Homo sapiens: one gene and its partner. The main gene of each other region encodes a partner of the protein of the gene in region 2 in a complex. Each region holds a gene or a part of one and is shown on either strand. Other genes may lie near its edges. The genes, in order: UPF3B and CASC3.

The links.
Region 1: CASC3 (region 2) and UPF3B share a complex: the UniProt entries of both Homo sapiens proteins name them as parts of the mRNA splicing-dependent exon junction complex.

Annotation. Positions count from the first base shown.
Region 1 is NC_000023.11:119,834,700-119,851,564, forward strand, and holds part of UPF3B (regulator of nonsense transcripts 3B), read right to left. Parts: coding exon 16,796-16,865; intron 10,598-16,795; coding exon 10,499-10,597; intron 8,603-10,498; coding exon 8,492-8,602; intron 7,080-8,491; coding exon 7,036-7,079; intron 6,560-7,035; coding exon 6,377-6,559; intron 5,986-6,376; coding exon 5,947-5,985; intron 3,829-5,946; coding exon 3,668-3,828; intron 3,353-3,667; coding exon 3,058-3,352; intron 329-3,057; coding exon 179-328; 3' UTR 1-178. UniProt on the Homo sapiens protein: Involved in nonsense-mediated decay (NMD) of mRNAs containing premature stop codons by associating with the nuclear exon junction complex (EJC) and serving as link between the EJC core and NMD machinery.
Region 2 is NC_000017.11:40,140,147-40,157,011, forward strand, and holds the start of CASC3 (protein CASC3), read left to right. Parts: upstream 1-390; 5' UTR 391-402; coding exon 403-633; intron 634-1,060; coding exon 1,061-1,088; intron 1,089-1,423; coding exon 1,424-1,461; intron 1,462-1,907; exon of another isoform or gene 1,908-1,954; intron 1,955-16,865. UniProt on the Homo sapiens protein: Required for pre-mRNA splicing as component of the spliceosome. Core component of the splicing-dependent multiprotein exon junction complex (EJC) deposited at splice junctions on mRNAs.

The DNA of each region.
Region 1 (16,865 bases), on a different chromosome or scaffold from region 2:
ATTCTGAACCTCTGATCAGATTCCTGCTTTGACACAAGACTTACTCCTCTGCAGTGTACCCCACCAGCACAGCGGCTCCCTTTCTCTCTATTCTTTGCCCTGAAGGCACCTCTGGATTGCTTAACGTGTGCTCTTTGGCTGCCTAGACAGTCAGGACACCTAAGGCCATCTGGACTTATCACTCCTCTCCTCCTTCTTTTCTATGGCTAATACCACTTTCCTGCTTCCTTTCTGCTGCTGAATCTCCAGACTTGGTGCTGTCATCAGGGGGACAGAGTCGATTTCGGCTTCGAGCTCCTGGTTGGTAAAGCTGCATCGCTGGACGATCCTGAAGTACAATAAAATATGTTACCATTACAACAATGCTACTAAGCTTTTATATGGGATTTTTAAGAGTCATAGTTATGTATGAATATATGCTCAAGTGAAGTCATTTAAGACCAAAAATGTGAGGGCACGGTAAATGACAACTTGCCTACTTCCTCTCTCCATCTCCAAAGAAAAGCAACCATTTGGTAATTACTATTTTATATGCTTGGGTAAATTTTTTTTTGGAGATAGGGCCTCACCCTGTCACCCAGGCTGAAGAGCAAGTGGGATGATCAAGGCTTATTGCAGCCTCGACATTCCAGACTCAAACGATCCTCCCACCTCAGGTACCTAGTAACTGGGATTATAGGCACGCACTACCACACTGGGCTGTTTTTACATTGTTAGTACAAACAAGCTCTCCCTATGTTGCCCAGGCTGCTTTCCAACTCTTGGGCTTAAGTGATCCTCCTGACTTGGCCTCCCAAATTGTTGGGATTACAGGCATGAGCCATCATGCCAGGCCCTAAGTGCCAGTTTTAAAGGAAGCACAGAAGACAGAGGAACACGTTAAATAACAGCATGGGGATGTAATCTGCCAATTCAGAACAGGAAAAGCCCTACAAGACAAATTGGTTTCTGCAACAAATGGTAGGAAAACAAGAGAAGGGGAAATTGTTTAGATTAAAAGAAAACTTGGCTGGGTGCAGTGGCTCATACCTTTATTCCCAATACTTTGAGGGGATCGGCTGAGCTCAAAAGTTTGAGACCAGCCTGAGCAACATAGGGAGACCTCATCTCTACAAAAAAACTTAAAAATTAGCTGGGCATGGTGATGCATGCCTGTAGTCCCAGCTACTCTGGAGGCTGAGGTAGGGGGATGGCTTAAGCCCAGGAGGTCGAGGCTACAGTGAGCTGAGATTGTACCACGGCACTCCAGCCTGGGTGACATAGCAAGACTCTGTCTCAAAAAATAAACTAAAAACAAAAGAGAACTGAAGAAGACATTTCAAGGAAGCATAATTTGTGGAATTTGTTTAGGTCCTATTAAAAAAAAGACATTAGGCTGGGCACGGTGGCTCATGCCTGTAATCCCAGCACTTTGGGAGGCTGAGGCGGGAGGATCACCTGAGGTCAGGAGTTCGAGACCAGCCTGGCCAACATGGTGAAACCCTGTCTCTACTAAAAATACAAAAATTAGCCGGGCATGGTGGCTTGAGGCTGTAGTCTCAGCTATTCGGGAGGCTGAGGCAGGAGAATCACTTGAACCCGGGAGGTGGAGGTTGTGGTGAGCTGAGATCATGCCACTGCACTCCAGCCTAGATGACAGAGCGAGACTCCATCGCAAAAAATAAATAATTAATTAATTTTAAAAAGACATTAATGAAGCAATTGGGAACATATGAACACTGAATAGACAGGACGTTAAGGAATTATTGTTAGTTTTTTTTGGTGTGAAAATGCTACTAGGGTAATATTAATAGAGTATTTATCTCATATACTGAAGTATTTAAGGAAGAAATTATGTGCAGGGTTTGTTTGAAAATAATCTAGTAGGGGTAGGGATGAAGTAGAATAGAAAGAAGGTTGGCTATGAACTGCTGGGTGATGGGTACAGTACATGGAGTTCATCATACTATTCGATTTTTTTTTTTTTTTTGAGACAGAGTCTCGCTCTGTTGCCCGTGCTGGAGTGCAGTGACGCGATCTCGGCTCACTGCAAGCTCCGCCTCCCAGGTTCACGCCATTTTCCTGCCTCAGCCTCCCGAGTAGCTGGGACTACAGGCGCCCGCCACCACGCCTGGCTAATTTTTTGTATTTTTAGTAGAGATGGGGTTTCACCATGTTAGCCAGGATGGTCTTGATCTCCTGACCTCGTGATCCACCCGTCTTGGCCTCCCAAAGTGCTGGGATTACAGGCGTGAGCCACCGCGCCCGGCCAGTTTTTTTTTTGAGACTGAGTCTCGCTCTGTTGCCCAGGCTAGAATACAATGGCGTGATCTCGGCTCACCTCAACCTCCACCTCCCAGGTTCAAGTGATTCTTCTGCCTCAGCCTCCCGAGTAGCTGAGATTACAGGTGTGCGCCACCACATCCAGCCGATTTTTTGTATTTTTAGTAGAGACGGGGTTTCACCATGTTGGCCAGGCTGGTCTAGAACTCCTAGGCTCTAGCAATCCACCCACCTCAGCCTCCCAAAGTGCTAGGATTACAGGTGTGAGCCACTGCACCTGGCCCATCATACTATTCTCTATTCTACTTTTGTGTATGTTTACAATTTCTATAGTAAGTTAATAAAAGCCCAGCCAAGACTGAAATAAAAGTTGGTCAGGCGTGGTGGCTCACGCCTGTAATCCCAGCACTTTGGGAGGCTGAGGCAGGTGGATCACGAGGTCAGGAGATCAAGACCATCCTGGCTAACACGGTGAAACCCTGTCTCTACTAAAAATACAAAAAAATAAGTCAGGCGTGGTGGTGGGCGCCTGTAGTCCCAGCTACTTGGGAGGCTGAAGCAGAAGAATGGCGTGAACCCAGGAGGCGGAGCTTGCAGTGAGCCGAGATTGTGCCACTGCACTCCAGCCTGGGCAACATAGTCAGACTCTGTCTCAAAAAAAAAAAAAAAAAAAAGTTGCAGATGATTAAAGTTCCCCTTTAAAAATTCTATAATAACAGTGCCCTTTACACTTTCTTTACACTTGCAGGAAAAGGGAAAAAAACCCTCATAAACAAGTTTAATGACAAGCAGCACCTTGTTTCTTATTCGATCTCTCTTGACCACTTCTTCTTTCTTTTCAGTTTTTTCTGAGCTGCCTATTGATTCTGTACTTTCAGCCTTCTTTCCTTTATCCCGAAGTGTGTCTTTCTCTTTTTTCATTTCTTCTTCTTTTCTCTTAAAAGTCTTCTCTTTCTCATAGCGCTCCTTCTGCCTACGGCGCTCTTCTTCTTGCCGCTTCAGCCTCTCTCTTTCTCGAAGTATGCGCTCCTGATCTCGTTCATATTCCCGTTCCCTCTCCCTATAGTCTCTGCCGCTCTCATCTTCAGGTCTGCATGAAAAACAAATCTGAGACAGAACCCTGAAAGATCTTGTAATCACAAATGCAGGAACACTGTGATTCTGATTTGGCCCCTGCAATGAGGTTGCACTTTTAGAGCAGAGTGAAAAATACTAGTGTTTTAAGAAGGAACAAAACCCCAAAACCATTCACCCAGATTAAGATACAAGAATATTCTGAAACTGTTCCTCCTCATCCCCCTGCCCTGCATAAAACAGCTTATCTTAATTCAGGTACATGTCCAGGACATAGCAGCAAAACTAGCATGTATAAATCAAACATAACAAAGAGTCCTTGACTACTGACCTCTTTGGTTTTTCATCTTTAAGTTCGCTATCAGAACGCTTGGGCAATGTACAACTTTGCCCACTGGCTCTTTCATCACTGAGATTCTCTTTGTCCAATTTCTTGGCTTTTTCTCTTTTGTCCAATTCTTTTTCATCTCCTTTTTCTGGCTTCTTGAGCAGCTTTAAAGATAAAATGTTTATTTTTATTTTGAAGGCTGGGACACTATCTTCTATTAAAAACCCAGTATACCAAATATTTAAAATTTAGACTAGACAAAGCCCCCTATCTCTGCAGGTACACTTAATCTTTCAGGTGAACAACTAGTGCATAAGAGTAGTAATTTACTAAAAGGATGCTATTAATGTTAAAGTGTTATCCACTTGAACGAAGTGGTTTAATCACTTTGTGGCAATAGGATCAAGACTCCTTTGGCTTTTATTCTGAGGCAGGGTCTCACTACTCTGTTGCCCATGCTGGAGTGCAGTGGCATGAACATGGCTCACCGCAACCTTGACCTCCTGGGCTTAAGTGGTCCTCCTGCCTCAGCCTCTTGAGTAGCTAGGACAACAGATGCACACCACCACATATGGCTAATTTTTTAATTTTTTTGTAGAGACAAGGTCTCATCATGTCACCCAGGCTGTTCTCAAACTTCTGGGCTCACACCATCCTTCTGCCTCGGCCTCCCACAGTGCTGAGATTACAGGTGTGAGCCACTGTGCCCGGCTTCCTTTGGCTTTAAATGGGTCAACCTTTAAGTGAACCAATGCATACTTCAAAGTATGCTTCTGTAGCAAACCAGCATGTTGATATAACTTAATGGGAAACAGCCCACAAATTTTAAGTGATAGGCAGATCGTTTCTGTTGGGACTGTTTTTATGTAGTACTTGGAATGACAAATACCTTGGTCACCAAAGGAGAGATCCATTGCAGGAATAATTTTGCCTTGAGCCTGAGAATAACATACTTATGATGGTACAATTATCTTGCCATTAGAGATTAATAACAAGAATTATTTGGCATTTGATTTAAAAATCTAAAGGCCTTATACAACCAAATAGTGAAGTTCCATCTCTACTGAGTAGGAACTCTGTATTTAATGCCATATTTACGCATGTTCAAAAATGCCATTGTTTTTTACATTGCTGCTATGAATCTCTCGAGAATACCTCCAAGTGTCGGATAATCAGAGAGATTCTTAGGCAAAATAGAAGAATTTCAAGTCTCAGAGTGAAGGTATCACACAAGGTTCATCTCAGGGTGAAGGCATCATGTAAATTACTAAGCAAAAGGCAAAGCACCACAAGACATAAGCACAAAGCATTTTGGCACACAGACAGCCACTGCAAATGGTGAGTCCAAAATGGACACTGAGAAGGCACCAGTGTAAAATGAGGATACCATGTGCAGGTTTCATTGGAAGTGCTCTTATTTCTCCAATGAACATCCTTATTAGAAACCAAGGTGTTCATTACTCTAATAAGAACATTAATGAATGTCTCTAGCATGGCTGGCTCTACCTTCTGCCTTGCTGATTGTTAGGAATAGCAAGTCAAGTCACTTGTGGCATAGCAGACAGAGAGATTGCTGGAAAGAATTAAGATGAGAAACTCCATCCTCCCCCAAGCCCCTCATCATCAGTAATGAGCCCCGTAGAGACTTAGGGAACCCTTGCTACATAAACTGCTGAGTTTTCAGGAAATAAAATAAGGAGACCCTGCCACCCTCTCTGTGAGATTTTCTTTGACTTTATCTGAAGTGCTAGGTACTAGTACTTCCCCAGGAAATATGTTGAAACAAGGGCTGCCCAAGCCATGCCCTTAGAAGGGAAGTGGCAAGGTTGGGATCTTTCTGCAGGTTTTCTTCTTCCCAAATGCAATGCATGAATCCGAATCTGCTGCTCACAGATTCCCAGATATATGCAGGAAGATACTACGGGAGTCATGTGAGAGGGAAAGGCACATATTGCAGGGTATTTATCCCTAGTCCTCCCACAAGGCAGCCAGTTATGAGAAGCATATAAGAAGATGAGAAAGAACTATATAGGCATGGTTGTCCTCTGGCTGTAGGTCAATGAAGCTTCTGGGCACACAGCAGAGCATCAGGAAGTCACCTGGGCTTCCTTTTAAAGTAGAAATTTATAATAAAATAGCTCAGCTTTTAAGAAGACTCAAGTCAACCTGAAGGGGTTTTCAACAAGTAACACTACCACCACCACCACCAAAAGGACTTATTAGCTAAGACCTGTGTGTGTGACATGATACTAGATGCTCTGTATCATGTACTTGGTCCTTACATTTTTCTGATTCACAGCTTGTAACAGAAACCTGTGTACCTGAAGACAGTGGAAAACAAACAGATGAGGTAACTTCATGTATCAATTATGAAGAAAAAGCTGAAAAAAAACCATAAATCATGCCAGCCAGCCCTAAGCCCTCATTTACTATGAATTTAGAGGACAATAGTCTAAAAATCCAACATTTTCAATGACAAAAACAGCACAGATCTGCACTGAAGAAATAACATACTACTTTATCCTTTTAAATGATCTTAAATTTAAAAACTAATACTATTACAGGAAAGATTTTTATTGGATCACTTCCCCCCAAAAGAGAACAAAAACAAAACAAAAAATTCATTTACACCAACACAAGACGCATGCATATTTAAAGAAGTAGATACGTGCAATTTTTAGCAACATGCAGTCAGTTTCAACATTCTTATACCTTAATCTTTGGTTCATCCTTTAATTTGTCCCTTTCTGGAATTCTGTCTATCTTCTTTAGCTTTTCTATATCTTTCCTTTTTCGTTTCTCTTCTTCTTTCCATTTCCTCCTCTCTTCTTCTCTTTGTCTTTTTCTTTCTATTTCTCTCCTCCTCCTTTCTTCTCTCTTTTCTTCTCTCATTCTCTAGAAAGAAACATCAACACAAGCCTTCAAATAAAATAATCATCACCAAAACCCTAATAAATCCTGAAGTCATGGTAGGCCCCAACTGAATAATCTTTCCTTCCTACTTTCTACAAAGTGGCATTCTACCACCGTTATCCCCACTCCACCCAGAAAACGAAAGACAATGAAGACCAGAACCTGCTAATATTATTCTTCCACTGCTGCCTTACTATCTCTCCAGAGGCTTTCAGAATATCAAATGAGTGTCTCTGGGACAACCTAAGAACATTCCACGTTTGTAGAGTGAACTCCTGGTCCAACAACCAGAGTGAAGGAGCAGGCTAGAGAGTGAGACCAAGAAGGCAAATCCTTAAAGAGTAATGGTGGAAAAAGCAGCTATTTCTCCTCTAGAAACCCAATGCTCTTAAAATGTTTATAGAATGCAAAGCAAAGAAATTAAAGTATTGAGAGAACTATAAAGACAAAAGATTTACCTGCTTGTTTTTCAGGAAGCTCAAAAGTGGGGTTGTCTTTTTAGCTACATAAATGTAAACAGATTATTAATCATACTTATCAACCCCTAGAAACGATTCCATTTTCTGACATTCCCTGCCAACCACCCAAGGTGGGAAAACATGTACACCCCTTATGCAGAAAGATCACAATTGTAATATCAGAAAGAAGTTTTACAGCATTCGATTTCAACAATACGGGATTAAAATACCTTTTAAAAAGTAAAGAAATTCAAATTAAAACAACAAAATAATTTATTAAAAGAGTCATTCCCAACTGATGAGAATTAAGTACTTAGGACATTCTCTTGTTTTACTGATAGGAGTGTAAACTTGTTCAACTGGAAGAAGTTGGGGGGAAGGGGCTAAAAATATCTAATCCTTTTGACCCCATAATTCCACTTCTGGGAATTTATTCTAAGAAAGTTACCAGAAATAGGCTTGTACTATCCATCTATTAATAAAAGTCAAGTTTTGGAAGAATATTTTTCATTTTCAACATTCTGAATAAGCTATTGGCCTTACAGCCATCTTAAAACACATATTCCTGGCCGGGCACAGTGGCTCATGCCTGTAATCCCAGCACTTTCAGAGGCCAAGGCAGGCGGATCACTTGAGGTCAGGAGTTCGAGATCAGCCTGGCCAACATGGTGAAACCCCGGCTCTACTAAAAATACAAAATTGGCCGGGCGTGGTGGCGGACACCTGTACTTCCAGCTACTCGGGAGACTGCGGCAGAATCGCCTGAACCCAGGAGGCGGAAGTTGCAGTGAGCCGAGATTGCGACACTGCACTCCAGCCTGGGCGACAGAGCAAGACTCCATCTCTCACACACACACACACACACACACATACACACACACACACACACACACACAGAGAGAGAGCGAGCGAGCAAGCAAGCAAAAAAAACAAACAAACAAACAAAAAAACCCCACATATTCCTTAGGATAAATTCCTGAGTAGAAATCCTGGGTCAAAGATTATGCTCATGTTTAGAGCTACTGATACAGTAGTGACAGCCTATTACTGAGAACCAAGATCCAAGCTAGAATTCCTCAAGTAGTTTTCAATTTTGCAGTAACTAATTTCATTTTTTCGTATTTTCAAGTCAAAATTTTTTTAGGAATATGAACTTATTACTAGAAAATACCAATTGACCTTCAAAGGCTTACCACTGTCTAAACATTCCTTATCAGTCATCGAACTTTTTGTATTTATATTACATTTGTGTGAAACTAAATAGGTCAAAGAATTTTTCCCACTTTAATGGATTCTCATAATGCTGTGAGGCAGGTATTACCATCTGCAATTTACAGTAACAGTCTCAGAGAAACTAGTAACTTCCCTGAAGTCACACAGCTAGCAACTGATGGAGGTAGGAGACTTAGGTACTGTGATGAAAAGACTGTTGCCCTGATTCTTTTTGCCCACTTACCTATTAATTCTCTATTTTTTGCTTCTATTTCCTCTAGCAGTGTCTCTGGAGTAGATGTCATTTTCTCATTATCTGTGGCATAACTTTCCAAAAACTTTCTATATTCTGGATCTAAATAATCATTTGAGGAAACAGAAAATATAATAGACTTTAAACAAAAAAAGAAGACATTATCTACAATACTGATTTATCAAAGAAGATAATTTTTTACTTCGTGGAAGATTAAAAAAAACCAAACCATACCCACAAGGTAGACTATTTAGAGCTTAATTGGTCACTTGCTCTCAGGACTCCTATCACTGATACTCACTATAGGAATCTGGTATAACATGGGGTCAGGAAAAATGAGACGCCATGCATTATAACAGAACCACTAGGGGTATTACATAGTTTGCTTTTAAAAGTCACTGTCCTACTAAACTAAGTTAGGTGTTCCAAAAAGATAAATTAGAGAGAAGTCCTAGATGTGGCACTTGAGGTGATGGGAATTCCTGGAGTTCTCTCCTAGACCTCTAACATCAGAAAGGGTGACACATCTAAGCCATTATATTGCTTGTTTCTATGTGTCACTTGATCAAGTCTTCCAGATCTAAATCTGTAATAAAACCAGTATCACAGCTATGTGTTATTGAGTCCTTACCGTGTTTTCTTTATAAAATACCTGTAATAGTAACAAATGATGGAAATTAAACTAGATGATTCTAAAGTAACAATCTGATATAAAATATGGTCCTAGTCCTTATCCAACATAAAGAGTTGTGTAACAGCTATCTAACATAACATTACAGAGGTCTCAAAATCTGGAGCCAGTGTACCTTAAATGGCAATTATTTTGGTTTTTCAGTTCTTGTATTTCTTTCTTTCTTTCTTTTTTTTTGAGACGGAGTTTTGCTTTTGTTGTCCAGGCTGGAGTGCAATGGTGCGGTCTCAGCTCACTGCAACCTCCGCCTCCCGGGTTCAAGTGATTCTTCTGCCTCAGCTTCCCAAGCAGCTGGGATTACAGGTGCCCGCCACCATGCCTAGCTAATTTTTGTGTTTTTAGTAGAGATGGGGTGTCACCATGTTGGCCAGGCTGGTCTCGAACTCCTGACCTCAGCAACTCTGCCCGCCTTGGCCTCCCAAAGTGCTGGGATTATAGGAGTGAGCCACCGCGCCTGGCCTCAGTTCTTCTATTCCTGTTCAACCTAATACTATGTGTGTAGCTAATTGTATATCCAAAGACCAGAAAATAGGAGTGACAACTTCAGCTACTTTATACAAAGTTACCTGGGTATGGAAATTTTCCCATGACAGTTCAAACCTTCTTCTTTATAAATATAATGGAAACCAAAAGTCAAATAAATAATCATAAAAATGGTGAGGCCTCAAGAAGCACCTGTTAAACTTTGAAACCTGATTTTTTTCCACTATTTTCTTTTTCTTTTTTTTTTGAGATGGAGTTTCGCTCTTGTTGCCCAGGCTGGAGTGCAATGGTGTGATCTCAGCTCACTGCAACCTCCGCCTCCTGGGTTCAAGAGATTCTCCTGCCTCAGCCTCCCGAATAGCTGGGATTACAGGCATGCACCACCATACCCGGCTAATTTTATATTTTTAGTAGAGACAGGGTTTCTCCATGTTGGTCAGGCTGGTATCAAACTCCTGACCTCAGATGATCCGCCCGCCTTGGCCTCCCAAAGTACTGGGATTATAGGCGTGAGCCACCACGCCTGGCCTTTCCACTATCTTCTAATCAATAAACCTATGGTGATTTGTTACTCAATAGTCAACATTATATTGTTCAATGGTTGAAGAATGAAATGCCCTAGCCAAAGAGAGCAGAGATTCTGTGCAAGAAACTCTCTCTAGTCTAACAATTAAGCAAAGCTTCCATCGGCAAATAACATTTCTCACTTACTTTATTTTGTATATTTTCTAATTTAAAATTTTGGGGTCGAATTAACTCTCACAAAGATATTATTTTTAAAAACCCCACAGCAATAGCATTATATAATTAGAGCTATACTGTACCATCATCGATAGTCCCGACTTTGGTATCTCTTTTCTTAGTCTTCTTTTTTGCAGCTTTTTGAAAAGGTGCAAATTCTACTATAGCGGGATATTCCTGACCTGTTTAGAAAAAAAATACCACACTTGCTATAACAAAGAAAATGTCAAAAGTGGATATAAGGGAATCAACCCATTGCTTTCTATGACTCTTTTGATGGCAGTCATCTGAAGAGGGTCTCCCAAAGGCATAAAGCACACTGGCACAACCATAATCAACATACTACAAAAGGAGCCACAAATTCACACTGATAACATAGTGAAACAACACGGCATGAAAGTAAAATATTCATATAAATTCAACTTATAAAATGTGATATTTTAATGTGAAAAAGACCCTACAAACTATTTTTCATTTTAAAATGTTAGAAATCTCCAAAATAGGCAAATCTATAGAGACAGAACGTAGAGTAGTAGCTGCCTGGAGTTTGGGGTAGAAGTGGTGAGAAGAATGAGGAGTGACAACTAATGGGTGGGGTTTCTCTTAGGGGTGATGAACATGTTCTAAATTTAGATTGTGGTGATAGGCTCATAAGCCTATGAATATACTAAAATTCACTGAACTGTATACTTTAAAAGGGTGACTATTTCAGGCATGTGAATTATATCTCAATAAAGCTGTTATTTTTTAAAAGTGTAACTATTTGAGGTGATGTGTTATGTGAGGTGATGAATGTGTTAACTTGATTGTATATATTTCATAATGTATATATGTATACATTATGTATACATTTCATAATGTATATATGTATACAATATGTATACATTTCATAATGTATACATTTCATAATGTATACATATATAAAATTATCACGTTGGGCTGGGCACCGTGGCTTATGCCTATAATCCCAGCATTTTGGGAGGCCGAGATGAGAGGATCACCTGAGGTCAGAAGTTTGAGACCTGCCTGGCCAACATGGTGAAACACTGTCTCTACTAAAAATACAAAAATTAGCTGGGCGTGGTGGCACGTGCCTGCAATCCCAGCTACTCTGGAGGCTGAGGCATGAGAATCACTTGAACCCAGGAGGCAGAGATTGCAGTGAGCCGAGATCATGCCACTGCACTCCAGCCTGGGCGACAGAGTAAGACTCCGTCTCAAAAAAATAAATACATAAAAATAAAAATAAATAAAAATACAAAAATTAGCCAGGCGTGATAGTGCACGCCTGTAATCCCAGCTACTTGGGAGACTGAGGCAGGAGAATCACTTGAACCTGGGAGGCGGAGGTTGCAGTAAGCTGAGATTGTGCCACTGCACTCGAGCCTGGTAAAAAAAAAAAAAAAAAAAGAAAAAGAAAAAAGAAAAAACAATTATTACATAGTAAAATTTAAATATATATTATTTTATTTGTCAATTATAGCTCAATAAAGCTGGGGAAAAATCTGTTAACACTTAAAAAAAAATACACCAGGACACCAAAAGCACAGGCAACAAAAGTAAAAATACAGAGGGTAGATCTCATGTTAAGTGTTCTTACCACAATAAAACAAAAATATAAAGTATATCTCTTATTTAAAAAAAGTAAAAAATAGATAAATTGGACTACGTCAAAATTAGAAACTTCTATGCATCAAAAGACACAATCAACAGAGTGAAAAGGCAACCCATGGAATGGGAGAAATATTTGCAAATTATATTATCTGATAAGGGGTAATATCGAGAATATATAAAGAACTCCTATAACTCAACAACAAAAAACCAAATAACCCAATTTAAAAAATGGTCAAAAGACTTGAATAGACATTTCTTCAAAGATAATATACAAATGGCTAACAAGCATATGGAAATATGTTCCACATTACTAGTCATTAGGGAAATGCAAATCAAAACCACAATGAGGTATCATCTCACGCCTATTAGGAGGACTACTATCAAAAAGCAGAAAATAACAAGTGTTGGCAAAGATGTGGAGAAACTGGAACACTCATGTATTGGTGGGAATGTAAAATGATGCAGCTGCATGGAAAACAGTATGGCAGTTCCATAAAACATTAAAAATAGAATTATTGGGCCAGCCTGACTAACATGGTAAAACCCCATCTCTACTAAAAATACAAAAATTAGCTGGGTGTGGTGGTGGGCACCTGTAATCCCAGCTACTCAGGAGGCTGAGGCAGGAGAATTGCTTGAACCCAGGAGGTGGAGGTTGCAATGAGGGAAGATCGCGCCATTGTACTTACTCCAGCCTGGGCAATGAGGGCGAAATTCCATCTCAAAAAAACAAAACAAAACAAAAAAGAACTACCGGCGGGGCACAGTGGCTCACACCTGTAACCTCAGCACTTTGAGAGGCCGAGGTGGGCGCATCACTTGAGGTCAGGAGTTTGAGACCAGCCTGGCCAACATGGTGAAACTCCGTCTCTACCACAAACATAAAAAATTAGCAGGGTGTGGTGGCAGGTGTCTGTAATCCCAGATACTTGGGAGGCTGAGGCAGGAGAATTGCTTGCACCTGGGAGGTGGAGGTTGCAGTGAGCCAAGATCATGCCACTGCACTCCAGCCTGTGTGACAGAGACTCTGTCTCAAAATAAATAAATAATAAAATAAAAATAGAATTACCAAATGACTCCAGAAATTCCATTTCTCGGTATATATCCAAAAGCAGTGAGAACAAGGACTCGAATATGTGCACATCTGTGTTCATAACAATATTGTTCACAATAGCCAAGAGTGGAAGCAACTCGAATACCCCTTGACAGATGAATGGATACACAAAATGTGGTATATACATATACTGGAATATTAGTCTTAAAAATGAGGCTGGGGGCAGTGGCTCATGCCTGTAATTCCTAGCATTTTGGGAGGCTGAGGCAGGCATGTCACTTCAGGTCAGGAGTTTGAAACTAGCCTGGCCAACACAGTGAAACCCCATCTTTACCAAAAGTACAAAAAAATTAGCCAGCTGTGGTGGTGGGTACCTGTAATCCCAGCTACTTGGGAGGCTGAGGCTGGAGAATTGCTTGAACCCAGGAAGCGGAGGTTGCAGTGAGCTGAGATCGCGCCACTGCATTCCAGCCTGGGCAACAAAGTGAGACTCCATCTCAAAAAAAAAAAAAAAAAAAAAAAAGATGAAAATTCTGACACATGCTACGACATGGATACACCTTGAAGATATTATGCTAAATGAAATAAGCCAGACAGACACTGTATGTTTCCACCTATATGTGGTACCTACAGTAGTGAAACTCATACAGACACAAGGTATAATGGTGGTTGCCAGGGGCTGGAGGAAGGGAAATAAGGAGTTGTTTAATGGGTAAAGAGTTTCAGTTTTTCAAGATGAAAAAGTTCCCAAGATTGTTGCACAACAGTGTGAATATACCTTAATGCTACTGAACTGTACACTTAAAATGGTTAAGATGGTAAATTTTATGTTACGTGTATTTTTACAATTTTTAAAAATGCAAAAGGAATGAGGTAATGATATATGTTATATGTTACAACATGGATGGACCTTGAAAACATTGTGCTAGGTAAAAGAAGCCAGTCAGAAAAGACCACATATTGTATGATTACATTTATATGAAATGGAGGGAAATCATAGATACATAAAGTAGATTAGTGGTTGCCAGGGGCTGGAGGGAGAGAATGGGAGGTAACTACTAATAGATATGGGTTTCTTTTTGGAGGGATGAAAACATTCTGGAATTAGTACTGATGGTTGTACTACCTTGTGAATATACCAGAAACCACTGAATTGTACGCTTTAAGAGGATGAATTTTATTATAGGTGAGTTATATTTCAATACAAAAACCCCAAGTGACTAATGGGAAAAAAATTCACAAGCACCCTGTCACAGAATGTCAAAAACAAGGTATCCTATCCTTAAATCATTGGCATGTAGACATAAGCAGAAAAATAAAAATAAACAGAATTGACCAGAAGGCACTGCAAAGCAGTCATGGAGGAAAAATTATGTTGGGAATCCCAGTGAGTAGAGAATCAGATTAGCTTCAAAACTGTGATATATTAGGCCAGGCATGGTGGCTCACGCCTGTAATCCCAGCACTTTGGGAGGCTGAGGCGGGTGGATTGCTTGAGGCCAGGAGTTTGAGACCAGCCTGGCCAACATGGTGAAACCCCATCTCCTAAAATTACAAAAATTAGCTGGGCGTGGCGGCACACACCTGTAATCCCAGCTAAGTCGGCAGGCTGAGGAACGAGAATTGCTTGAACCCAGGAGGCGGAGGTTGTAATGAGCCAAGATTGTGCCACTGTACTCCAGCCTGGGCGACAGAGTTAAGACTCTGTCTCAAAAAAAAAAAGAGAGAGAGAGAGAAGAAAAAGAAAAAAAACAAAAATAAAAACCAAAAAACAAAACTGTGATATATTTGAGAAGGAATAGATAAACCAGACTGAAACAGAGGGAAATTGTGGAAGACAGGCTGAAGAAACAGAAGTGAGGCCAGAATATGGAGGACCCTGACTACCAGGCTAAGGAGTTTGGACTTTTTCCCCCAACTGTTAATTTAAATCATTATTTTCAAAAAGATTAATTTCATGGCAATATAATAGACTGAATTATACAAGAATGAAAAAAATGGAAAATCCTGTAAGTTTAGAGACAGTGGTTGTCTAGGCATTAAGTGATGAGGACATAAAGTGTGACTGTTTAAGGCTAGGTGAACAAGATATTAAAAAAAAACAATAAAATCCAGCCTGGGCAACATAAGCAGACCTTGTCTCTAAGATTTAAAAACAAAACAAAACAAACAAACAAACAAAAAACACAATGAGGAAAGGATAGTCTCTTTAATAAGTGGTGTTGAGCTGGGTATGGTGGCTCGCACCTGTAATCCCAGCACTTTGGGAGGCTGAGGTGGGGGGGGGGAAATCACTTGAGCCCAGGAGTTCAAGACCAGCCTGGGCAACGTAGTGAGACCCCATCTCTATAAAAAATTTAAAGAAAATTAGCCAGGCATGGTGACATACATCTGTAGTCCCAGCTACTCAGGAGGCTGAGGTGGGAGGATTGCTTGAGTCCAGGAATTCCAGGCTGCAGTGAGCTCTGATTGCGCCACAGCACTCCAGCCTGGGTGGAGACCCTATCTCAAAAGATAAACAATAAATTGACAAGATTCATAACTTACATGTAAGAGATTTTTAAAAAAGGAAAAAATTAAACACAACTCAGATTTCCAGGCTAAGTAACTAGAATCTAGTTAAATATCTACTGGAATAAAATAGTTGGAGTGGAAAAATAGCTGGCTTGGGGAGATTAATAAAAGTTGGACAAACAGTGGCAATCCTTCAATTTTTACTGGCATAGTCCCTGACAAAAATTTAATTTTTACCAACTTTGAAGTAATATTGAAAAAAACAAAACAAAACAAGAAGACACACTATTTACCTATAATTGCAAACCAAAAAGAAAAGTGGCAAATGGCAGCTTAGATATTCTCTGGCTAAATGTAGGTAGCAGATAATAGAGTGTTAAAGTAGAAATGTGTCTTCCCTATAGACTGGACCTTTCTGGATATAAAGTAAGAGATGTATCAAGTTTCTTTTTTTCGATTTTGAGACAGAGTCTCGCTCTGTCGCCAGGCTGGAGTGCAGTGGCGTGATCTCAGCTCACTGCAACCTCTGCCTCCCAGGTTCAAGCGATTCTTCTGCCTCAGCCTCCCAAGTAGCTGGGATTACAGGCGTGGACCGCCACGCCTGGCTAATTTTTTTAGCATTTTTAGTAGAGATGGGGTTTCACCACGTTGGCCAGGCTGGTCTCGATCTCCTGACCTCGTGATCCACCTGCCTCGGCATCCCAAAGTGCTGGGATAACAGGCGTGAGCCACCACACCAGGCCGAGATGTATCAAGTTTCATGTTTTAATTATATACAACTTTGTGAGAATGTTAAACAGTATCCCAATTGGGAACTGTTGGCTTAATGGATTTGAATTAAATAAATGTTTGTCCTCGAAGCAAAATAAGAAGTAAATATTTAAAACTTATCAAACAAGTTTAAGAGTCACTTATCAGTACTGCGGCTGAAATTCTACAGTCAAAACAGCAGGTTTAAGCCAGGGCAAAAAATGTGTCACACGAGGAGAAAACAGTTGCAATTTCACTCAGTTGATCAAACTAAAAAAATAGTAGGTTAATAAAAATAACCAAGGACTGTGAAAAGTCACGTCTATTTATAAGACTGCAATAAGCTTATTAAATGTGTAAAACTCTAGGAAGCAACGCAATGCACGAGTTGTCTTAAACATACAAATGACAAAGAAATTCCCTTTTTACTTCAGTTACCAGGACTCACCTTTATTGTCAAGGAATACATAACCATCAAAGCGATCCCTGAACAAAATAATGTCCTCTTGGTTTTTAAA
Region 2 (16,865 bases):
CGGGCCAGGAACCCGGGAGGCTGCTGAAGTCTCAATTCCCCTCGCCCTAGGCCTGCCCAAGGGAAGTCAGGAGCCGCGCCACGCCCCCTTACATCACCGATAGACGTAATCCGGGTCGGCCGCAAACGTGCCGCAGGCCTAGGCCCCGCCCAGTGCCCCGCCCCTCCCCCAACACACACACACACACACACACACACACACACCCCAACACACACACACACACCCCAACACACACACACACACACACACACACACACACACACACACACACACACACACACACAGCGGGATGGCCGAGCGCCGCACGCGTAGCACGCCGGGACTAGCTATCCAGCCTCCCAGCAGCCTCTGCGACGGGCGCGGTGCGTAAGTACCTCGCCGGTGGTGGCCGTTCTCCGTAAGATGGCGGACCGGCGGCGGCAGCGCGCTTCGCAAGACACCGAGGACGAGGAATCTGGTGCTTCGGGCTCCGACAGCGGCGGCTCCCCGTTGCGGGGAGGCGGGAGCTGCAGCGGTAGCGCCGGAGGCGGCGGCAGCGGCTCTCTGCCTTCACAGCGCGGAGGCCGAACCGGGGCCCTTCATCTGCGGCGGGTGGAGAGCGGGGGCGCCAAGAGTGCTGAGGAGTCGGAGTGTGTGAGTGCGCGCAGGCGGGGCGGGGTGGGGACCGGGCGGCGAGCCGGCCGGGGGCGGGGTGTAGGTGATGCTAGGTAGTCTGTGAGTTGATAGTAGATACTGGGACTTTTTTTTGTTTTTGAGAGAAAAGGGGAGTTATCCCAATGCGAGTTTGCATCCGGAGTTCCAAGGGAAGAAGAAGGATTGGGGGTTTCTGGGAGGATGGTAGAGCCGCTGGAGATGGAAAGCGGATGTTTTATTCAGAAGTCGGGGCTGGAGGGAAGGAGACCAGACCTGCCTTGGCTACTACTTGATAAAGATTTACCTATCTCTGTCTCCCTCTCCAACCATTTTGTGCTGAATCTTCAGCTTTTCACCCACATTTCTTTATTGGGCTCCCCACCTCTGGAAATCACAGAACTAACCCATGTCTTCTGCTTTCTTTCAGGAGAGTGAAGATGGCATTGAAGGTGATGGTGAGTAGCATCTTTTACCCCATTAGGACAAGAGTTTTTTTTAACATAAACTCAGGTCATCTATTTCCAACATCGACATTCTCACACACTGTCACGGATTTAGGGCCACAGAGTGCCTTTTTGTAACATAGTGGTTAAGAGCATAGGCTTTAGCAGTATAGTCTTCAGCAAGTTACCCTCTGAGCCTGTTTCTCCTTTTGTAAGTGGGGACTATAATTTTATCCACGTTGTAGGTTGATGTCAGAATTAAATGAGACTCTTAGTCTGACCTGTAATAAGCAGCCAAAAAATGTTTCTGGGTTTCTTTTTTTCCACATATTTCTGTTTTATTTCAGCTGTTCTCTCGGATTATGAAAGTGCAGAAGACTCGGAAGTGAGTATGACAGGTTTTTTCCTATGGTATAGATCAGAAATGCTTTTTAAAAACGTGTACACACCTTCGTTGCAAACGTACCATGACCTCCGTGTTTATCCTCTTGTGTATTCTTCATTTATGCTTCTGAAAAAGTGTTACAGAAGGTCTTGTTCACTTTAGACCTAGGGAAAACTTGGGGCACGCCGTCTCAAGCCACAGGTGTTATACTGTTAGTTGGCTTCTCTTCCTGTCTGAAGAATATGAGGTTCTAAATAAGAGAGTGAGGATATCTTGAAGTCCTCTGAAAGATGTTTGACAGTTTGTTTTATGCAGTGTAGGTTGAGAAGCCAGCCAATTGGTTATTTTTTTCCAAATCTATCTGAAGACTTTGAAAGGGTAGGATTCGGAATGTTTTGTGCCAAGAGCATCCATCATTTTATAGGTGGGGATTTTTCTGTTTTTAGGAGAAAGTTTCCTGTCTTTTGGATAAACTACTAGAGATGCCATCAGAGTAAGTGTTTGTTTCCTGGGTTGTTGAGTGGACTCCTGAGTTCTGGTAATGGGATTATATATAGGGGGAATTGGATGGTGGATCAAAGATTTTGTCTATACATTTTTAGAACTGTTACTACATTTTAGAATCTGTTAAGCCCTTGAGGATGGAATAGTGAACACTATAACAAAATTCCTATCTTTAGAGATCTTACAACTCAATAAGGAAGTCAGACAAACATTCAAGCAATTGTACCACTTGCTGATAGGGGATAGCACTGGGATAGGGCTAAGTAGGGTGTTACAGCTGGGTACTGAATCCATCTTAGGCAGTCGGGAAAGATTAAACAGTTGGCTGGGTAAGATGTGTTCTAGGCAGAGAGAACAACAGTCAAGAAAGCCCACAGGGGCCGGGAGCAGTGGCTCACGCCTGTAATCCCAGCACTTTGGAAGGCTGAGGCAGACGGATCACTTGAGGCCAGGAGTTTGAGACCAACGTGGCCAAAATGGTGAAACTCCATCTCTGGCCCGGCGCGGTGGCTCACGCCTATAATCCCAGCACTTTGTGAGGCCCAGGCGGGCGGATCACGAGGTCAGGAGATCGAAACCGTCCTGGCTAACATGGTGAAACCCCGTCCCTACTAAAAATACAAAAAAAAATAATAATAAATTAGCTGGGCGTGGTGGCGGGCGCCTGTAGTCCCAGCTACTCGGGAGGCTGAGGCAGGAAAATGGTGTGAATCCGGGAGGCGGAGCTTGCAGTGAGCTGAGATTGTGCCACTGCACTCCAGCCTGGGTGACAGAGCAAGACTCCGTCTCAAAAAAAAAAACCCATCTCTACTAAAAAATACAAAAATTAGCTTGGTGTGGTGATGCATGCCTGTAATCGCAGCTACTTGGGAGGCTGAGACACGAAAATCGTTTGATCCCAGGAGATGGAGGTGGCAGTGAGCTGAAATCATGCCACTGCACTGCTACCTGGGTGACAGAGTGAGACTCTGTCTCAAAAAAAAAAAAATAAATAAATAAAAGAAAGGCTGTAGGGGTACAAAAAGAATAGTAATTAGAATGAATAAGATCTAAACCCAGCGCGATGGCTCACACCTGTAATCCCAGCACTGTGGGAGGCCAAGGTGGGCCAGTCACTTGAGGCTAGGAGGTCAAGACCAGCCTGGCCAACATGGCAAAACTCCATCTCTACTAAAAATACAAAAATTAGCAGCTCATGGTCCCGCATGCCTGTAATTCCAGCTACTCAAGTGGCTGAGGCAGGAGAATCCCTTGAGCCTGGGAGGTGGAGGTGGCAGTGAGCCATAATCACACCACTGTACTCCAGCCTGGGCAACAGAGCAAGACTCTTGTCTCAGAAAATTTAAAAAATAAAAATGACTAAGATCTAGAATTTCATATTTGCAACATGGTGACTACAGTCAACCAGTAACTTATTGTACATTTAAAAATAACTATTGGCTGGGCACAGTGGCTCATGCCTGTAATCCCAGCACTTCGGGAGGCTGAGGTGGGTGGATAACAAGGTCAAGAGATTGAGACCATCCTGGCCAACATGGTGAAATCTCGTCTCTACTAAAAATACAAAAATTAGCTGGGCGTGCTTGCACGCCCCTGTAGTCCCAGCTACTCAGGAGGCTGAGGCAGGAGAATCGCTTGAATCCGGGAGGCAGAGGTTGCAGTGAGCCGAAATCAAGCCACTGCACTCCAGCCTGGTGACAGGGCAAGACTCCATCTCAAAAAAAAAGTATATATATATATTAATAAAAGAACGTAATTGAATTGTTTGTAACAAAGGATAAATGCTTGAGGCGATCCATACCCCATTTACCCTTACATGATTATTACACATTGTATATCTATATAAAAATATCTCATGGGCCGGGCTTGGTGGCTCACACCTGTAATCCCAGCACTTTGGGAGGCCGAGGCGGGTGAATCACCTGCGGTCAGGAGTTCGAGACTAGCCTGGCCAACATGGCGAAACCCATTTTCAGTCTCTACTGAAAATAAGAAAAATTAAGTAGGCGTGGTGGCAGGTGCCTGTAATCCCAGCGACTCAGGAGGCTGAGGCAGGAGAATCACTTGAACCCAGGAGGTGGAGGTTGCAGTGAGCCAAGATTGTGCCATTGCACTTCATCCTGGGCAACAAGAGGGAAACTCTGTCTCAAAAAACAAAAACAAAAACAAAACTCATGTACTACATAAATATATACCTACTGTGTACTCAACAAAAATTAAAAACTTTCTTTTTCTTTTTTTTTTTTTGCTTGAGATGGAGTCTTGCTCTGTAACCCAGGCAAGAGTGCAGTGGCATGATCTTAGCTCGCTGCAACCTCCACCTCCCGGGTTCAAGCGATTCTCCTGTCTCAGCTTCCCAAGTAGCTGGGATTACAGGTGCACACCACCACACCCAGCTAATTTTTGTATTTGTAGTAGAGACGGGGTTTTACCATGTTGGCCAGGCTGGTCATGAACTCGTGAACTCAGGTGATCCGTCCGCCTCAGCTTCCCAAAGTACCGGGATTACAGGTGGATTACGGGTGTGAGCCACTGTGCCCAGCCCTCTTTTTTTTTTTTTTTTTTTTTTAAAAAAGAGGCAGGGTCTCACTCTGTTGCCCAGTCACCCAGGCTGGAGTGCAGTTGTGGGGTCACAGCTCACTGCAACCTCAAACTGCTGGGTTCAACCAGTCCTCCTGCCTTGACCTCCTGAAGTGCTGAGATTACAAGCATGAGCCACCATACCCAGCCAAAAAAAAAAAAAAATTAAGTTTTTTTTTTTTTTATTGAGATGGAGTATTGCTCTGTTACCCAGGCTGGAGTGCAATGGCTCGATCTCAGCTCACTGCAACCTCTGCCTCCTGGGTTCAAGCGATTCTCCTGCCTCAGCCTCCCGAGTAGCTGGGATTATAGGCGCATGCCACCACGCCCGCCTAATTTTTGTGTTTTTAGTAGAGATGGGGTTTCACCATGTTGGTCAAGCTGGTCTCGAACTCCTGACCTCAGGTGACCCACCCACCTCGGCCTCCCAAGGTGCTGGGATTACAGGCATGAGCCACCGTGCCCCCCATTTTTTTTGTTTTGTTTTGTTTTGTTTTTTAAGACGGAGTCTCATTCCGTTGCCAGGCTGGAGTGCGGTGGTGCAATCTCGGCTCACTGCAGCCTCCGCCCCGCCTGGTTCAAGTGATTTCTCCTGCCTCAGCCTCCCGAGTAGCTGGGACTACAGGTGTGCACCACCACGCTCAGCTAATTTTTGTATTTTTAGTAGAGACGGGGTTCCACCATGTTGGCCAGGATGGTCTCCATCTCTTGACGTCGTGATCCACCCACCTCGGCCTCCCAAAGTGCTGGGATTACAGGCGTGAGCTACTGCGCCTGGCCCAAAATTTTTTTAAAAAGAGAAAAAGCCCAGATAGAGAAGATAGAGAGCGTTTGGGAACTTGGGAGTAATTAGGTGTGACTGGAGCATTGTTGGGACAGGATAGGTATTAGAAATAAAGACAAATTGGTGAGCAGGGGCCACTAATTGGTGAGGTGGGAGGATTGCTTGAGCCTGGGAAGTGAAGGTTGCAGTGAATCAAGATTGTATCACTGTACTCCAGCCTGGGCAACAGAGCAAGACCCTGTGTCAAAAAAAAAAAGTGATGCGATTGGATTTATTTATTCATTTTTTAAAAATTTTTATTTACTGTTTTTTGTTTGTTTGTTTTTTTAATTTTTAGTAGAGATGGGGTTTCACCATGTTGGCAAGGCTGGTCTCGAACTCCTGACCTCAAGTGATCTGCCGGTCTTGGTTTTTCAAAGTGCTGGGATTACAAGCATGAGCCACTATGCTTTGTCTGATTTAAATTTTAAAGATGTGTTTTTCAGATCCAGAGAACACTTGCATCAGAAAATCCAATTAGCCATTCTCTACTGAAACAGACTCTTGGGAGGGGCATTGGAGACTCAGACATTTATGTATTAAAGAATATCCCAGGTTGATGCTATGTACTGTAAAATTTGAGGATTCTTTTATAGCAGTTATTTTGTCCACAGTGAAGAGAAACAAGATCAGAGACAGAAAAGCTAGTTAAGAAAGCTATTGTAGGAATCTAGTTAAGTAGTGAGTGTGGCATGGAATAGAGTGGTGATAGTGAAAATAGAAGTGGACAGAATTCAGAGTTAGAAGTGGTTTTGGGATGGGGAATATTTGCTGCAGTACAGATGCTTTTTGATTTATGGTGTAGTTACATCCCATCCTGGTAAACCCATCATAAGTTCAGAAGTTCAAGATAACTTCTTGGCTAACTTGGAGCAGCAACTCTCTGTTGCTATCCAGCATCTCGAGAAGTACGATTTCTTTTTTTTTTTTTTTTTCTTTTTTTAAGACAGAGTCTCACTCTGTCTCACTCTGTCTGCAGTGGCGTGATCTCAGCTCACTGCAACCTCTGCCTCCCGGGTTCAAGCGATTCTCGTGCCTCAGCCTCCCAAGTAGCTGGGATTACAGGCGCACGCCACCATGCCTGGCTGATTTTTTTTGTATTTTTAGTAGAGACGGGGTTTCATCATGTTGGACAGGCTGGTCTTGAACTCTTGACCTGGTGATCCGCCTGCCTCGGCCTCCCAAAGTGCTGGGATTACAGGCATGAGCCACAGTGCCTGGCCTCTTTTTTATTTTTTTAAAAATATTTTTAATAGAGATGAGGTCACTCTGTGTTGCCCAGGCTGATCTTGAACTGGACTCAAGGGATCCTCCCACCTTGGCCTCCCAAAGTGCTGGGATTACATGTGTGGTGAGCCACTGCACCCAGCTGAGAAGTACAGTTTCTACTGAATGTTTATGGCTTTCATACCACCATAAAGTCAAAATTATAAGTTGAACCATCATACATCAGGGACCGTCTGTAGTCACTAGAGAATGGAAACGTTGGAGAAACTGACAGGCAATATGGAGTGTTCATTGAGTTTTGGGGATTGTGAATTTATAGCAGCTTACCATTCTATATGTAAGGGAGTTTGGATGTTTTCCTAATGGCTAGGAAAGAAGTACCACTGAAGGCTTAAATGTGGGGGATGAATTGTGGGTGAGGCACAAAGGAAGACTAGAGGCAGAAGAGCTGTTTAGAGGTTGTTAGGATAGTCCAAGGAGCATGACGATGGTGCCCCTAAAGAAGGTTCATACTTGTTGGAATGGCAAGATGTGGGACAGATTAGAGAGAGATTCTAGTGTACTAACAACCCCTTCATTGATTGAATGTGGAACCTAAATTAAGGAGTCAAAGGAGGCCAGGTACCTTGGCTCATGCCTGTAATCACAGCATTTTGGGAGGCTGAGGCAGGTGGATTGCTTGAGCCCAGGAGCCTGAGACCCACCTGGGCAACATGGAAAAATCCTGTCTCTACAAAAGAAAAGTAGAAAAAAAAATTATCCGGTCTTGGTGGCGCAGGCCTGTGGTCCCAGCTACTGAGGAGGTTCAGGCAGGAGGATCATCTAAGCCCAGGGAGGTCAAAGCAGTAGAGCTGTGATCACTCCACAGCACTCCAGCCTGGACAACAAAGTGAGACCCTGACTCAGAAAAAGAAAAAGGAGTCAAAGGAATGTGCAGGTTGATGAATGGTGTTGAATGGTGTTAACTGTTAAGGAAGGGACCCCAGGAGAAGAGTTCTGGAAGGACAGTTGTGGGTTAGGTTTTGGATGTTTTGAGATCGAGAAGGTGTGGGACTTTTAGGTGGTGATACCTGGTAAATAGTTTTTGATTCCTAATTGCTCATACCTTTCTGAGTTCTCATTTCATTTTTGAGTTTTTCCAATTCTGATTGATGTTCTTTCATGCCTTATATAATTTTCTTAATGTCTTTTTAGCTTATTTTGAAATAGAAGTTGCAATTTTGATATGATATGCGGATGTCTTTCTGGCATGCTTTCATTGTCTGTAGGAATGCTATTATTTTTTCTTATTATAACTTTATGGGATTTAACTTCTGTATTTTCTGTTCATTTTTATGTAAAATTAGTTTTCCTGGTCTTTTCGAAGGAAGCATGATTTAGAATAGCTTTTTCTAACTTCACAGAGCTGCTTCTGTTGTTTTTCTGTGGTGGTGAGAAATATGGTGGCTTGCTTTCTGAGATTTGTTGCTTTTGTTCCCTTTCCCAGCTTGTTCTGGACCATCCCTGTCCTACTGAATTTGGTCCTGCTCTCAACAGTTTCTCTTCTAGGAACTCCCTTCTAGGGACAGTGTAGGGCCCTGTCCCCAGAAGGAAGCCCTGGCAGCCAGGTCAGCTTCATCCCTTCAGACCTTTTTTTTTTTTAAGACAGAGTCTCACTCTGTCGCCCAGACTGGAGTGCAGTGGCGCAATCTCAGCTAACTGCAATCTCCGTCTCCTGGGTTCAAGCGATTCTCCTGCCTTAGCCTCCTGAGTAGCTGGGACCTCGTGTGTCACCGTGCCCAGCTAATTTTTGTATTTTTAGTAGAGATGAGGTTTCACCATGTTTTCCAGGCTGGTCTCGAACTCCTGACTCAGATGATCCACCCACCTTGGCCTCCCAAAGTGATGGGATTACAGGCATGAGCCACCGTGTGTGGCCCCCTTGCTAGTTGTAAGTGCTGTTCTCAGTTTTGACTGTTGTGCTTTCCCTTGACTGCCTGTTGATTATTTCAGTGTTCTCCTGTTCTCAGGTCCATTTGCTTTCTCTCTGCTTTCTCCTGCGTGGACACCAGTACTATACAGGTCCTACAGCTGTTGGTGCTTTGTTATGCACTTACATTTTGGGTCTTGGGGGATACCTGGTAACTTAACTTTGTTGCAGTGTTGTCTGAAGGTTTTGGTTTCTTTTTTATTTTTTGAGACAGAGTCTTGCTGTCGCCCAGGCTGGAGTGCAGTGGCTTTGCCTTCCAGATTCAAGCTATTCTTGTGCCTCAGCCTCCTGCGTAGCTGGGATTACAGGTGCGTGCCACCATGCCTGGCTAATTTTTGCATTTTTAGTAGAGACGCGGTTTTACCATGTTGGCCAGGCTGGTCTCGAACTCCTGGTCTCAGGTGATCCACCCACCTCGGCTTCCCAAAGTGTTGGGATTATGGACGTGAGCCACTGTGTCTGGCCAGGGTTTTGGTTTGGGTCTCGGTTTTGCTGTCCAGAGCTCTCATTCCATGTGGAGATTTGAAGAGAGATAAAACTGTGCCACTGCCATTTTCTGAGAGTCTTCCAAGAATTCTTTTTTTTTTTTTTTTGGCAAATGGGTCTCCTTATTTTGCCCAAGCTGAGCTTGAACTTGAACTTACAATCCTCATCAGCCTCTTGAATAGCTGAGACAATAGGTTCATGCCACTGTGCCTGGCCAAAAAAACTTGTTAAAGAAATTTGACTGAGGGAAGGCTGAAGAGATGGTAGTTGGAGAGGTAGCTTTGAGATCAAGAGGTGATTTGGATGTTTTTTAAAAAGTTAGGAGAGTATCAAATAAGGTCAAAGATTGAAAAAAAGAAAAGAAAGGGGGAAAAAAGAGAGGGAATAGATAATGATATTGAGTACTGGTATTTTTGACTGAGTATATGAGAAAAAGTAGGAACCAGACAAGATTAACATCTTCCATTGTAATTACAGAGAAGTGGGAAGGAAAGGTATGTGCAAAGGAAGATTAGAAAGGAGGGAAAAGCTGGGTGCGGTGGCTCACGCCTGTAATCCCGGCACTTTGGGAGGCCGAGGCGGGCAGATCACGAGGTCAGGAGATCGAGACCATCCTGGCTAACATGGTGAAACCCCGTCTCTACTAAAAATACAAAAAATTAGCCGGGCATGGTGGCGGGCACTTGAGCCTGGGCGACAGAGCGAGACTCCGTCTCAAAAAAAAGGGAAAAAAAAGAGGGAATAGATAATAATATTAAGTACTGGTATTCTTGACTAAGTACATGAGAAGATGTAGGAACCAGATGAGAAGTATCTTCCATTGTAATTACAAAGAAGTGGGAAGGAAAGGAAGTTAGCGTTCCTTTCTGTGTTTTGTTTTTGTGAAATAGAAGGATAGAGCAGGACAGGCACGGTGGCTCACACCTGTAATCCAAGCACTTTGGGAGGCCAAGGCAGGAGGATTGCTTGAGCCCAGGAATTTGAGACCAATCTGGGCAACAAAGTGAGACCCTCTCTCTACAAAAAATCAACCTGGCGCAGTGATGTGTGCTTATGTCCCAGCTACTTGGGAGCTTGGAGTGGGAGGATCCCTTGAGCCCAGGAGGTCGAGGCCACAGCAAGCTATGATTGCACCACTGCACTCCACCCTGGGTAACAGTGTGAGACTCTCGAAAAAAACAAAAGAATGACATCTGCTTCAAAAAGTAAGAGTGTGTGCGTGTGTGTGTGTGTGTGTGTGTGTGTGTGTAACCCCCTTTGGCAATGGAGTAGTCTGTTGTAGGCCTGGAGAAAGCAGACATTTGAATTGATCCAGTTCCAGGCATATGGGAGTGGCAAGAGAAATGGGATGTTACTAGTAGTGATTGAAATGAATGAGCTATGGAGTCTAGAGAGAGAAGAAAGTGAATGTGAGAAAGGACTGATAGGCAGAAGTTAGAAGCATCAAGGGAATGGATGCATTGAAAAATTAGAGACGAGACAGTAAGGAAACAACTAGGAATAAGAGGCATTTTTTTAAAAAACTGCTTTATTGTGGCAAGGCGCCGAGGCTCATGCCTTTATCCCAGCACTTTGGGAGGCTAAGGCAGGCAGATCACGAGGTCAGGAGATCGAGATCATCCTGGCTAACACGGTGAAACCCCGTCTCTACTAAAAATACAAAAAACTTAGCCAGATGTGGTGGCGGGCACCTGTAGTCCCAGCCACTCGGGAGGCTGAGGCAGGAGAATGGTGTGAACCCGGGAGGTGGAGCTTGCAGTGAGCCGAGATCACGCCACTGCACTCCAGCCTGGGCGACAGAGTGAGACTCCCTCTCAAAAAAGAAAAAAAGAAAAAAAACTGCTTTATTGAGATACAATTCACAGAACGTACAGTTCATTTATTTATAAAGTGCATAATTTAGCCAGGTGCGTGCCTGTACTCAGCTACTCAGGAGGCTGAGGCAGGAGGAATGGTCGGCCCAGGAGTTCGAGACCAGCCTGGGCAACATAGTGAGACCTCATCTCTTTTTATTTGTTTGTGTGTTTGTTTTTGAGACAGAGTCTTGCTCTGTCACCCAGTCTGGAGTGCAGTGGCACAATCTTGGTTCACTGCAACTTGACCCTCTGGGGTTCAAGTGATTCTCGTTCGTCAGCCTCCCGGATAGCTGAGGTTACAGGTATGTGCCATATGCCTGCCTAATTTTTAGTATTTTTAGTAGAGATGGAATTTTGTCATTTTGGCCAGGCTGGTCTCAAACTCCCAGTCTCAAGTGATCTACCCACCTCAGCTTCCCAAAGTGCTGGGATTACAGGCGTAAGTCACCACGCCTGGCCCGTAAGACCTTATCTCTATAAAAAATAAAAAATTTAGCCAGGCGTGGTGGCGTGCACCTGTAGTCCCAGCTACTTGGCAAGCTGAGGCAGGAGAATTGTTTGAGCCCAGGAGGTCAAGGCTGCAGGGAGCTGTGATCATACCACTGCACTCCAGCTTGAGTAACAGAGTGAGACCTTCATCTCAAAAAAAAAAAAAAAAAAAAGGAAGGAAGAAACCCAGTTCTCCCATCCTTCCCGTAGCCTCAAGCAACCGCAAATCTACTTTCTGTCTCTGTTGATTTTCCTATTCTGGCCTTTCATATGAATGGAATTATGTAATATGTAGATTTATGTGTCTGGCCTCTTTCAGTATAATGTTTTCATCTGACTTGTAGCATGTATCAGTACTTCATTCCTTCTTTCTGCCTCCCCACCCCAGCTTTATTGAGGTATAACTCACAAATAAAAATTGTATACATTTAACACATACAGTGTGGCATCTTGATATATGTGTACATTGTGGAGTACCACAGTTAAGCTAATTAACGTATCTATCACCTCACCTAGTTAACCTTTTTGTATGTGTGTGATGAGAACACCGAAGAGCTACTCTCAGCACATTTCAAGTTTACAATATGTTATTTATTTTTATTTTACATGGTTTAAAAAGAGACAGAACCTTTGTCACCCAAGCTGGAGTTCAGTGATGCAGTTATAGCTCACTGCAACCTCAAACTCCTGGGCTTAAGCAATCCTCCCACCTCAGCCTCCTCAATAGCTGGGACTACAGGCGTGCACTACCATGCCCAGCTAATTTATTTATTTGTTTTTATTTTTATTTTTTTTTTGAGACGGAGTTTCACTCTTGTTGCCCAGGCTGGAGTGCAGTGGCATGATCTCAGCTCACTGCAGCCTCTGCCTCCTGGGTTCAAGCGGTTCTCCTGCCTAAGCCTCCCAAGTAGCTGAGATTACAGTCATGCGCCACCAAGCCCAGCTAGTTTTGTATTTTTAGTAGAGGTGGAGTTTCTCCATGTTGGTCAGGCTGGTCTCGAGCTCCCGACCTCAGGTGATCCACCCACTCAGCCTCTCAAAGTGCTGGGATTACAGGCGTGAGCCACCATGCCCAGCCGCCCAGCTAATTTTTAAACAAATTTTTTGTAGAGGCAAAGAATCGCTGTATTGCCCAGGCTGGTCTTGAACTCAGCTTCAAGCAATCCTCCAGCCTCAGCTTCCCAAAGTATTAGGATTACAGGCATGAGCCACCATGCCTGACCAAGTATACAGTACGCTATTATTATTATTATTTTAGACAGTCTTGCTCTGTAGCCCAGGCTGGAGTGCAGTGTTACAATCTCGGCTCACTGCAGTCTCTGCCTCCCAGGTTCAAGCAATTCTTCTGCCTCAGCCTCCTGAGTAGTTGGGATTACAAGCGCCCACCACCACGCCCGGCTAATTTTTTTATTTTTAGTAGAGACAGGGTTTCACCATGTTGCCCAGGCTGGTCTCGAACTCCTGACCTCATGATCTGCCCACCTCGGCCTCCCAAAGTGCTGGGATTACAGGTGTGAGCCACCACGCCCAACCAGTAAGTTATTATTAACTATGGTTACCATGCTGTACATTAGGTCTCCAGAACTTATAACTGAAGTTTTATATCCTTTTACCACGATCTCATTTTCGCTACCCTTAAGCCCTAGAAACCCCCTTCCTACTCTCTGTTTCTATGAGTTTGACTTGAGATCATGTGGTGGTTATCTTTCTGTGTCTAGCTTATTTTACTTAGCATAGTTCCGTCTAGGTTCATCCATTTGTTGTCACAAATGTCAAAATTTTTTTTTTAGGGCAGAATTAGATTCCATTGTTCGTGTGTTCCACATTTTCTTTATCCATTCACCCAACAACAGACACGAGTTATTTCCATAGCTTATTTCCATCTTTTGGTTATTATGAATAATTCTGCTACAAACATTAGTGTACATGTTTTTATGGGGACATATGTTTTCACTTCTTTTTGACTATGTACCTAGGAATGGAATTGCTGAGTCATGTGGTAACTCTGTAATCATTTGAGGAACTAGAACCGCCATACTGTTTCCAAGGTGCTGCACCATTTTACGTGACTAGCAGCAGTGTATGAGGGTTCCAGTTTCTCTATATCCTTAACAGCACTTGTTGTGTTATTTACCCAGGTGCATGCCTGTACTCTCAGCTACTCAGGAGGCTGTGGCAGTAGGATTTCTTGGGCCCAGGAGTTCGAGACCAGCTTGGGCAACATAGACCTGTCTAAAACTTTTTTTTTTTGGCGGGGCACGGTGGCTCACGCCTATAATCCCAGCACTTTGGGAGGCCGAGTCAGACGGATCACTTGAGATCAGGAGTTCCAGACCAGCCTTGCTAACATGGCGAAACCTCGTCTCTGCTAAAAATGCAAAAATTAGCCAGCCACTGTGGCACGCGCCTGTAATCCCAGCTATTCAGGTGGCTGAGGCATAAGAATCACTTGAACCCGGGAGGTAGAGGTTGCAGTGAGCCGATTTGATTCTAGATGTCCTATTAGGTATGAGATGTTTTCTCATTCTGATTTGCATTTCCCTGATGACTAATGATGCTGAGCGTTTTTTTTTTTTTTTTTTTTTGGTGCTTATTGGCCATTTGTGTATCTTCCTTGAAGAAATGACTATTCAGATACCTAGGCAATTTTTTAAAAATTAATTTTTAATTATTGTTTTTATTTTTTTTAGAGACAAGGTCTTGCTGTATTATCCAGAGTGGTCTCAAACTCCTGGGCTCAAGCAAGCAGTCTTCCCACCTCAGCCTCCTCAGTAGTTGAGACTATAGGCATCAGCCACCACACTTGATCTTTGCCCAAAGTAGCTGGGATTACAGGTGTGCGCTGCCATGCCCGGCTAATTTTTGTATTTTTAGTAGAGACGAGGTTTTGCCATGTTGGCCAGGCTGGTCTTGAACTCCTGACCTCAGGTGATCTGCCCACCTCAGCCTCCCAAAGTGCTGGGATTACAGGTGTGAGCCACTGCGCTTGGCCATTTTTTTTTTTTTAATTGAGATGTAAGAGTTCTCTATATATTCTGTATTCTAGATGTAAGTCCCTTATCAGATATGATTTGCAAATATGTGTTCCCTTTCTGTGGATTGTTCACTTTCTTTATAGTGTTCTTTCAAGGACAAAGGTTTTAGTTTTGATGAAGCCTGGTTTATGTTTTTCCTTTTGTTGCAGATGCTTTTGGTGTTAGGTATCTAAGAGTCATTTGCCAAACTGAGAGTCATGAGTATTTACTCCTGTGTTTTCTTCTAAGAGTTTTATAGTTTCAACTCTTAAATTTAGGTCTTTGATTCATTTTGAGTTAGTTTTTATATGTGGGGTAAAGTAAGGGTCTAACTTCATTCTTTTTGTTTTTTGAGATGGAGTCTCGCTCTTTCACCCAGGCTGGAGTGCAGTGGCGCTATCTAGGTTCACTGCAAGCTCTGCCTCCCGGGTTCATGCCATTCTCCTGCCTCAGCCTCCCGAGTAGCTGGGACTACAGGCACCCGCCACCACGCCCAGCTGATTTTTTGTATTTTTAGTAGAGATGGGGTTTCACCGTGTTAGCCAGGATGATCTCGATCTCCTGACCTCGTGATCTACCCATCTTGGCCTCCCAAAATGCTGGGATTACAGGCATGAGCCACTGCGCCTGGCCAACTTCATTCTTTTGCACGTGACGATTTTGGTCCATGACTCGGGTGTTTATACGTAAGGTTTTATTTTGTTTTGTTTTGTTTTTTTGAGATGGAGTCTCATTCTGTCACCCAGCCTGGAGTGCAGTGTCGCTATCTTGGCTCACTGCAACCTCTGTCTCCTGGGTTCAGGCGATTCTCCTGCCTCAGCCTCCCGGGTGGCTAGGATTACAGGCATGAGCCACCACGCTCAGCTAATTATATTTAAGGTTTTAAAAGTGGAGCAGTTTTACTTATAATAAAGCATAGCAGTTCTAGGTAAGACTGGTTTGGAGTGCAGCCATGGAAATGGATGGCTGAAGTGCAGGTGAAGACTGACCTCAGTGCTAAAGTCTTCCTGTCAACGACAGGCCCGTGGCCTCGGAGGAGCCGGGGTTTATTAAAATGAGGCTAGAGGAGTTAGATCTGAAAGAGACATTGAGAATAAGGATACCAACTCCATCTCTTAGTCTGAAATATGTGGGAAGTAGAAGAATGAGCTAAAACTTCTGTATTAGAATTTTTCAAAGGAACAGTTCCTTCAGGGTGGAGCTAGTAAGAATTGGAAAGAGTACACTGAAATGGTGGGTGATGTAGGGGAGTTTGTCTCTTCTGGAAAAAGGTTTTGATGACATCCCTTTGCCAAAGCAGTGTGACCGTGTGGTAGCACCTTGGCTTCAGTTAGACTAAGCTTTGACTAATTTGGAGCCTCCTCAGTACTATGCTATTTGTATCTGTTCTGCCCTGGAAACAAAATTAGTTTTTCACTTAAAATAAAGTTGCCTTATTTGACATCCTACCACAGATCAGAGGGTGGAGCATAAAACAAGCTTTCCTTATTAATCATGTGATAATACTATTTAAAGGTATTTGAATTAAATCAGTACGTGTGTGTAGGGAGATGGAGAATTAAAGTCACATACACCAAGTTATTGTAATTTCTGCTTGAAAATCTTCAGGGAACATAGGATCAAGGAAAGAACTGAATGATTGCCACCTACCCATCCTAGTCTTGAGGAGGAAAAACTTCATGTAATTAAGGGAAATGGGAAGAATCAATGGTGCTCAGTTGTTAAAAAGCTATAGGTAAAGGCTTGATTCTGATAGTGTGGGTATAGTCAAACAGTCTCCCTCTATTCTGTTACCTTTCTGAGAGTCCTAACCCAAAACACTCAAGGCCAAAATAGTTAACCTTTGAACGGCCAGGCGCGGTGGCTCATGCCTATAATCCCAGCATTTTGGGAGGCCGAGACAGGCGGATCATGAGGTCAGGAGATCGAGACCATCCTGGCTAACACGATGAAACCCCGTCTCTACTGAAAATACAAAAAATAATTAGCCGGGCATGGTGGCGGGCGCCTGTAGTCCCACCTACTTGGGAGGCTGAGGCAGGAGAATGGCATGAACCCGGGAGGCGGAGCTTGCAGTGAGCCGAGATCCAGCCACTGCACTCCAGCTGGGGCGACAGAGTGAGACTCCGTTTCAATAAAAAAAAATTAAAAAAATAAAATAGTTGACCTTTGGACAACATGGGAGTTAAGAGTGCCTATCCTGTCTGGGTACAGTCACTCATGCTTCTAATCTGAGCACTTTAGTGGGCCAAGGCAGGAGGATCACTTGAGTCCAAGAGTTTGAGACTAGCCTGGACAAGAAAGCAAGACCCTGTCTCTACAAAAAAAAGGACAAAAATTAGCTGGGCATGATGGCACGTGCCTGCAGTCCCAGCTACTCAGGAGGCTGAGGCAGGAGGATCACTCGAGCCCGGGAGTTTGAGGCTGCAGCAAGCCATGATCACACCACTACACTC